Linked DNA regions of Homo sapiens. The protein of the gene in region 2 interacts with the protein of the main gene of each other region in a pairwise test. Each region holds a gene or a part of one and is shown on either strand. Other genes may lie near its edges.

The links.
Region 1: the proteins of STRN (region 2) and MOB4 interact in binary tests that used the Homo sapiens proteins (3 or more experiments, as listed by UniProt).

Annotation. Positions count from the first base shown.
Region 1 is NC_000002.12:197,533,050-197,536,972, forward strand, and holds part of MOB4 (MOB-like protein phocein), read left to right. Parts: intron 1-2,480; coding exon 2,481-2,581; intron 2,582-3,923. Other genes in the region: HSPE1-MOB4 protein, read left to right, coding at 2,481-2,581.
Region 2 is NC_000002.12:36,854,637-36,858,559, forward strand, and holds part of STRN (striatin), read right to left. Parts: intron 3,388-3,923; coding exon 3,220-3,387; intron 717-3,219; coding exon 576-716; intron 1-575. UniProt on the Homo sapiens protein: Calmodulin-binding scaffolding protein which is the center of the striatin-interacting phosphatase and kinase (STRIPAK) complexes.

The DNA.
Region 1 (3,923 bases), about 160 Mb from region 2:
GATTGCGCCACTACACTCCAGCCTGGGCGACAGAGTGAGACTCTATCTCAAAAACAAAAAAAAATTTCTATCCATAGAAGGTGTAGTGGGAACAGGAAAGACAAAAATGAATAGACAGATTGCTAATATATACAAATTACAAATGTGGCAGGAAATTGGATGGAGTTCTGTGAGGATTCGAATAATCAGGGAGTGCTTGAGTGTGTTGGGGGAACGAGAGATTTGGACAGAATTGTGATGTGGAATTTGAGGTGGCCTTTGGAGAAGGTATACAATTTAGCTGTATCTCCTCAAGGAGAGAGAGAATCAAAACTTTGAAACATTAGGATGAGATAAAAAAAATCAGGGAGAGTGGTTTCAATAGTAATTAAAGAGTCATTAAAAAGTGTTTGAGGCTGGGTACGGTGGCTCATGCCTGTAATCCCAGCACTTCGGGAGGCCGAGGCGGGTGGATCAGCTGAGGTCAGGAGTTTGAGACCAGCCTTACTAACATGGCGAAACCCTGTCTCTACAAAAAATACAAAAATTAGCCGGGCGTGATGGCAGGTGCTTGTATTCCCAGCTACTCGGGAGGCTGAGGCAGGAGAATCGCTTGAACCCGGCAGGCGGAGGTTGCAGTGAGCCAAGACTGAGCCATTGCACTCCAGCCTGGGCGACAGGAGCAAAACTCCTCAAAAAAAAAAAAAAAAAAAAAAAAGTATTTGATCCCTTTCCCTGTCATCATGGTGTGTGCGTGTGACTCAGTTCTTTGCCATGCCTTCCCACAAGACTTTAAGACTTTTAGAATCAAGTGATTCCTGGCCAAGAAACAAAAGCAAAATCGTCCCATTCCCCAGTGGATTCAGATGAAAACTGAGTAATAAAATCAGGTACAACTCTAAGAGGAGACATTGGAAAAGAACCAAGCTGGGTCTAGAAGGAATTTTACATGAGATGGCACACATACTTAATATTGCATCAAGGTCACTATCATGTCACCATATCAAGCTGAAAATGTCACCATCATCTGGACAGTTGTACATGCTGTATTGGAACAATGGTTTTTCTTTTGGTTTCTATGCTCTGCAGTAGGCTGGTTCAGTACTAAATATGTGAGACCTTTTGTTTGGAAAAAAAAGTTTTTGAGTAAGCAAGTGATATTCAAGAAAGATTGTCTGAAGTAGGCAAAATTGATTGGCTCAAGAAGGCCTTATAGTTAGTAAGTTTTTGTAACCACCCTTTTAATCTGTTCTAACGTATTTAGACTTCAGAATATCAAAAAGATTGCATAAAGCATTACAGAGATCTGAAATTTAAATTTTTATGTTATTACATTTTAAAAATTGAAAGTGACCCTCCCTTGCCTTTTTTTTTAAACTTAGTTTTTTCTGTTAGTCATTTAAAACAACTTTTATTGGATCTAATGAACATACCATACAAATCCCTATACAGTTAGAGTGATTATATTCACAGGGTTGCACAGCCATCACTACAGTCTAATTTTAAAGCTTTTTTGTTGTTGTTTTGTTTTTGAGATGGAGTCTCACTGTGTTGCCCAGGCTGGAGTGCAGTGGCACGATCTTGGTTCACTGCAACCTCCGCCTCCCGGGTCCAAGCGATTCTCTTGCCTCAGCCTCCAGAGTAGCTGGGACTACAGGTGTGTGCCACCACGCCTGGCTAATTTTTTTGTATTTTTAGTAGAGATTGGGTTTCACTATATTAGCCAGGATGGTCTCGATTTTCTGACCTTGTGATCTGCCCACCTCGGCCTCCCAAAGTGCTGGGATTACAGGCATGAGCCCCGACGCCCGGCCTTTTAGAACATATTTATCCTTCCTGAAAGGAAACCTCACCCTCATTAGCAGCCATCTTCAGTCTCTTCTGCCTTCCTCTCTGCCCTCAAGCCCTACACCAGTACAAATCTATTTCCTGTCTCAATAGATTTTCTTACTCTAGACACTTCATATAAACCAAATCACAATATGTACCATAGTTATATTTACATTGCCTATGGTGAAATCCTGTATCTACAAAATATGGAAAAGTTAGCCCGGCGTGATGGCGTGTGCCTGTAGTCCCAGCTCCTCAGGAGGCTGAGGTGGGAGGATTGCTTGAGCCCAGGAGGTGGATATTGCAGTGATCTGAGATTGTGCCACTGTACTCCAGCCTGGGTGATGCAGTGAGACCCTGTTTCAAAAAAAAAAAAAAAAAAAAGAAATTATGGTTTGCAATTTTGATCCAAGTTCCAGTCCTGACAAATACAATATCTGCATTTATGTAGTAGATTCTATCCAAATGAAGTTGAATTGAAGGATAAATAAGTAAGGGTAACCTACTTTTTTTCTTAGTTACTGATTATGATTCTATACTTGGTTTCCTATTTAGTGTATAACCCAAGTTGAACCACAAGAGCAGTTATGTATTAACAAATTATATGTACTTAACATAAGATTTACCAGGTGATATAATTTAATTAACCATAAGAACTTCTTTGTTTTTAGTATATTCAACAGAACATAAGAGCAGATTGCTCCAATATTGACAAAATTCTTGAACCACCTGAAGGCCAAGATGAAGGTGTGTGGAAGTATGAACATTTAAGGTAGGACCTTACATCAAAATACTAATAGTACCTCTCACAAAACTAGCTTTCATATTAATGATAATTATGAATTGTAAAATTTACTATGTAACTGCAGACTAAGAAGCCAAATTTTAAAGCTTTGGCATTTTCAGTGTCACAAGGTTCTCAGCTTTCTTCACTGGTTGTTTCCAGGTCAAATTATGCTGCAGAGTCACTCATTTTGAAAGGTGGTTTATTTCAGAGTTGATAATTTGGACCTGCCTCTGCACCTCTCTTCTTTTCTTTTCTTTTTTTTTTTTTTTTTTGAGATGGGGTCTCACTCTCTTGCCCACGTTGGAGTGCAGTGGTGTAATCACTGCTTACTGTGCCTCTACCTCTTAGGCTCAAGTGATCCTCCCACTTCAGCTTCCAGAGTAGCTGGGACTACAGGTGTGTGCCAGCATGCCTCACTAATTTTTTAATTTTTTGTAGAGACAGGATCTGATTGTGTTGCCCAGGCTAGTCTCAAACTCCTGGATTCAAGCAATTTTCCTACCTTGTCCTCCCAAAGTATTGAGCCACCCTTTCTACATTTATTCATTTGGGCCTTATTATCCCCGCCTTTTTTTTGAAACAGGGTCTTGATCTGTTGCCTAGGCTGGAATGCAGTGGTGCAATCTTGGCGCATTGCAGCCTCTGTCTCCCATGCTGAAGCAATCCTCCCACCTCAGCCTCCTGAGTAGCTGGGACTACTAGTGCATGCCTCTAAGCCTGGCTAGTTTTTTGTATTTTTTGTAGAGACAAGGTTTCACCATGTTGCCTAGGCTGGTCTCAAACTCCGGGGCTTAAGCAATCCACCCACCTTGGCCTCCCACAGTGCTGGGATTACCACCATGCCAGCCTGGGTTTTATTCTTATTTCATGATTTTCCTTAATTGTATCTCTTAACCGCTAATATAGTATTTCCGTTTCCCCATTTTTGCATAACTGTGTCATCTTTTGTCTTTTTTTTTTTTTTTTTTTTTTTTGAGACAGAGTCTTGCTCTGTTGCCTAGGCTGGAGTGCAGTGGTGTGATCCCGGCTCACCACAACCTCTGCCTCCCGAGTTCAAGTGATTCTTCTGCCTCAGCCTCCCGAGTAGCTGGGACTACAGGCGCAGCCATGCCCAGCTAATTTTTGTATTTTTAGTAGAGATGGGGTTTCACTATGTTGGCCAGGCTGGTCTCGAACTCCTGACCTCATGATCTGCCCGCCTCAGCCTCCCAAAGTGCTGGGATTACAGGTGTGAGCCACCGTGCCTGACTTGTCTTTTTTTTTTCCTTTGTTTCTGTAGAGATGGGGTCTCACTGTGTTGCCCAAGCTGGTCCTGAAATCCTGGGCT
Region 2 (3,923 bases):
TCATCAACTGCAACCTAAACTGTGATTGTCTAGATTATGGCTAACGACAGAAAGCAATGGTTAAGAAAGCCAAAAACCAAAAAAGAGTCTGTAATATCTTCTTCATAACCTGAAAAAGCACTTATTTCCTGACTTCCTGCATCCAATAAGAAGCTTCAGGTTTGGAATTCTGAGTGCCACAACATGATCTGTATTGAGCTGTACCAAATCATACTATTAATATAAAATTAAGTTGATTTAAAATATGAAATTACGAGAAATGAAAAATAGAATTTCCTATTCAGAATAAATATGGCTTTCTTCAAATAGAATTGAAAATTAATCATTTAGTATAAAATAAAACTTGACCCATAACAGCTCAAATGCTATTTCAAACAGTATAGTTATAAATGTACATAAACTTAACCCAAATTCTTAAAAGGTAAATAATTACAACCTTCTAAGTAACTGTGTTCTGAAAGTTAAGAGACAGAAAGCTTTATAATGACAAATATTTTTCACAGCTGACTCTAGTAGTCGTAATTTTGATTAAGTTAAAAAAATAAACACAGACAATTTAAAATTGGTATGCATACTTGTATCTACATTGGATTCTAAAGTGAGAATGCGTTGTTGTGTTTCCATGTTAAAAATGCTTGTATATCCCTTGCTGAATGATGCTACCATATGGCTCGGGTCACTGCTCACTAGATCCACAGAGGCAGGGATTCCCAGTTCTGAAAGAGAACATATTGAAATAGAATGGCAATTAAACCATCTACTTGACAATCTGCTTAAAATAGAGCAAAACAAAAAATGGCATGGTTTCCTTAAGAAGTAAACAAGGCTTACCATTAGAATAAGAATTAGCTCATAACTATTCATTGGAGATTATTTCTTTGTAACTTTTAGCCCTAGTCTATTTATTTCCCTTACCTGCTTAGCAGATCTTCTACCTGTTACTCAACTGATATATTCATGGAATGCAAGCCTTTATTTAGAGAGCAAATGGAAAACATGTATGAATTACAAATTTTGCTGCTTCCGCCCAACCTCAAGCTTAGAGTGACATAGTGGGAATTCTTCATTTTAAAAAACCCATCTCTTATTAGGGATGTTAGCTCATCAAAAATAGAGAAATTAAAAAGTAAAATTTAAAATTATTATTTATCGTTAGAGTCATGCAAATACCATATGAAGACAACTCATCAAAGCCTGGAAAGAAGTTATAATAGCTCAAGAATACAGAAGGTATTTTTATTTACCATCTAGAATACATGAAAACTTAGAGCTTATTTATAAACATAAAAATAGAAGGAAACATATAAAGTGAATATAATAATCTGATTTTTTTCATTTGGCTCAAAATCTAACTACAGCAAGGTAACAGTTCAAAAATGTGCATACTGCAGAAGAAGATACACAAATAACCAATAAGCAAACAAAAGAAATGCTCATCAAAATTAGCCATCAAAGAAATGCAAATAAACTATGATGAAATACTACTACACATCCACCAGAATGGCTAAAGTTAAACAGACTGACAATACTGTATGTTTGTAAGGATGCAGAGCAACTGGAATGCTCATACACTGCTGTCAAAGGTGTAAAATGGTACAACTACAAAATTTTTTTGAAAAATTTTTAGTGACTTCACATAAAGTAAAATAAACATCCACCTGAAAGCCCAGCAATTCTAAGTCTCTACACACCTATAATGAAAATATATGAATGTTCATAGCAGCCTTGTTCAAAATAGCAAAAAACTAGAGACAACCCAAATATCCATCAAGATATAAATGAATAGACAAATTATGGCTTAATGAAATACTATCAAATAAAAATGAAAGAAATAATTGATATAACACAAATGAATTTCCAAAACATTATAATGAAGAATAAAAGCAAGATACAAAGAACACATACTTTACTATTCCATTTACATGACGTTTGAGTAGATAAAACTAATCTATGATGAAAGAAATCACAACAGTGGGTACCTCTGGCTGGGAATAAGGAAAGGAGGGGACTGACTTGGAAAGACACGAAGGAACTTTGGGGAGATAAAGGAAATGTTCTATCTCTCATACGGTTTGGATCTGTGTCCTCACTCAAGTCTCATGTCAAACATAATCCCCAATATTGGAGATACGGCCTGGCGGGAGGTGATTGGATCATGGGGTGGATTTTCCCCTTTGGTGCTATTCTCGTGATAGAGTTCTCACAAGATTTGGTTGTTTAAAAATAGGTCCCACCCCCTTCTTCCTCCTGCTCCGGCCATGTAAAACATGCCTCCTGTCCCTTTGACTTCCACCATGATTGTAAATTGCTTGAGGCCTCCCCAGAAGCCAAAGAAAAGTTGCTATGCTTCCTGTACAGAACCGTCAACCAATTAAACCTTTTTTTTTTTTAAACAAATTACCCAGTCTCAGGTATTTCTTTATAGTGGTACGAGAATGGGCAAATATAGTCTTTTTTTTTTTTAAAGAAAATGTAGAGACAGGGCCTCGCTATGTTGCCCAGCTGGTCCCAAATTCCTGGCCTCTCGTGATCCTCCTGCCTCAGCCTCCCAAAGTGCTAGGATTACAGGTGTGAGCCACCACACCTGGATTCTATGTCTTGATTGATGTATGAGTTACATGGGTGTACTCATCTATCAGACTCACTGAAATGTATCCTTAATATCTGTTTTTCACTACATACAAATTATATCTTAATTTTTTAAAATCTAAAATCTGTGTGTTCTTTCACCAAAAACTATGCTTTCAAAAATTATAGGCTGGGTGCAGTGGCTCATGCCTGTAATCCCAGCACTTCGGGAGGCTGAGGCAGGCGAATCACTTGAGGTCAGGAGTTCCAGACCAGCCTGGCCAACACAGCAAAACCCTGTCTCTACTAAAAAAACTACAAAAATTAGCTGAGCGTGGTGGTGTGTGCTGGAGGCTGAGGCAGGAGAATTGCTTGAAACTGGGAGATGGAGGTTGCAGTGAGCCGAGATTGCGCCACTGCACTCCAGCCTGGGCAACAGAGTGATACTCCGTCTCAAAAAAAACAAAACAAAACAAAACAAAACAAAACAAAATTATATATAGGTTGGAAATTCAAACAAATACACTTTCGTGGCTTCAAAAACTTTCAAATTAAATTTAAAGAGTTCAGGGAATCATTTATCTGCTTGCTTATTTTCAGAATAAACTGTTTTATAGAGGATTCAGCAAAATAATTTTTTAAAGTATGTACCTTTAGTATCATTAAATACACTTAGTGCTGGAGCAACCTCAGTTGTATTCCATAAACGCAGAGTGCCATCTGCTGAACAGGACAACAAACGCTGATGTGCTGCACTATAAGCCAAACCCCAGACTGCATCCGTGTGGCCTAGCAGAGGGCCTCGTAAAACAGAAGGATCTATACAAAACAGTAAAAATGCAAAATCAGGAGAAAAACAACCACAAAGGTACTTAGATTTCAGAGAAAGTAAAATATATAAACAATAGCACCTGATAACAGTATAAAATATGATTCTTGGTTTCTATTATTCTTCTGACAGGCTACAGTAAATCAAAACAAGCTTGGAAATATACAAATATAAAGTTAAAAAATTTTAAATTAAAATTTAAAAGCACGTATTTTTCCCCCTTAAAAAAACTGAGTATTTCCTCCCCCTTCCTTTTGTCCTTCCATTTGTCTAAATATTTTTAAAGCACGTTGATACGAAATCATTTGAATTTAATTCATCTTTGGAGAAACCACAACTCACACTCCCTGAGGAAGTGAACAGAGAGGTCCTCTCCCTCTCTGAAGTCCCTTAGCACTTTGGCTATACTTCCTTCTGTTCACTTATCTTACTATATGATGGATGGCAGTTTTTCCTGAAAATATGGCATTCATAATGGACAGGAAGTGACATCTACAGGAATCCCCAAATTCTCAAACAGCAGTAA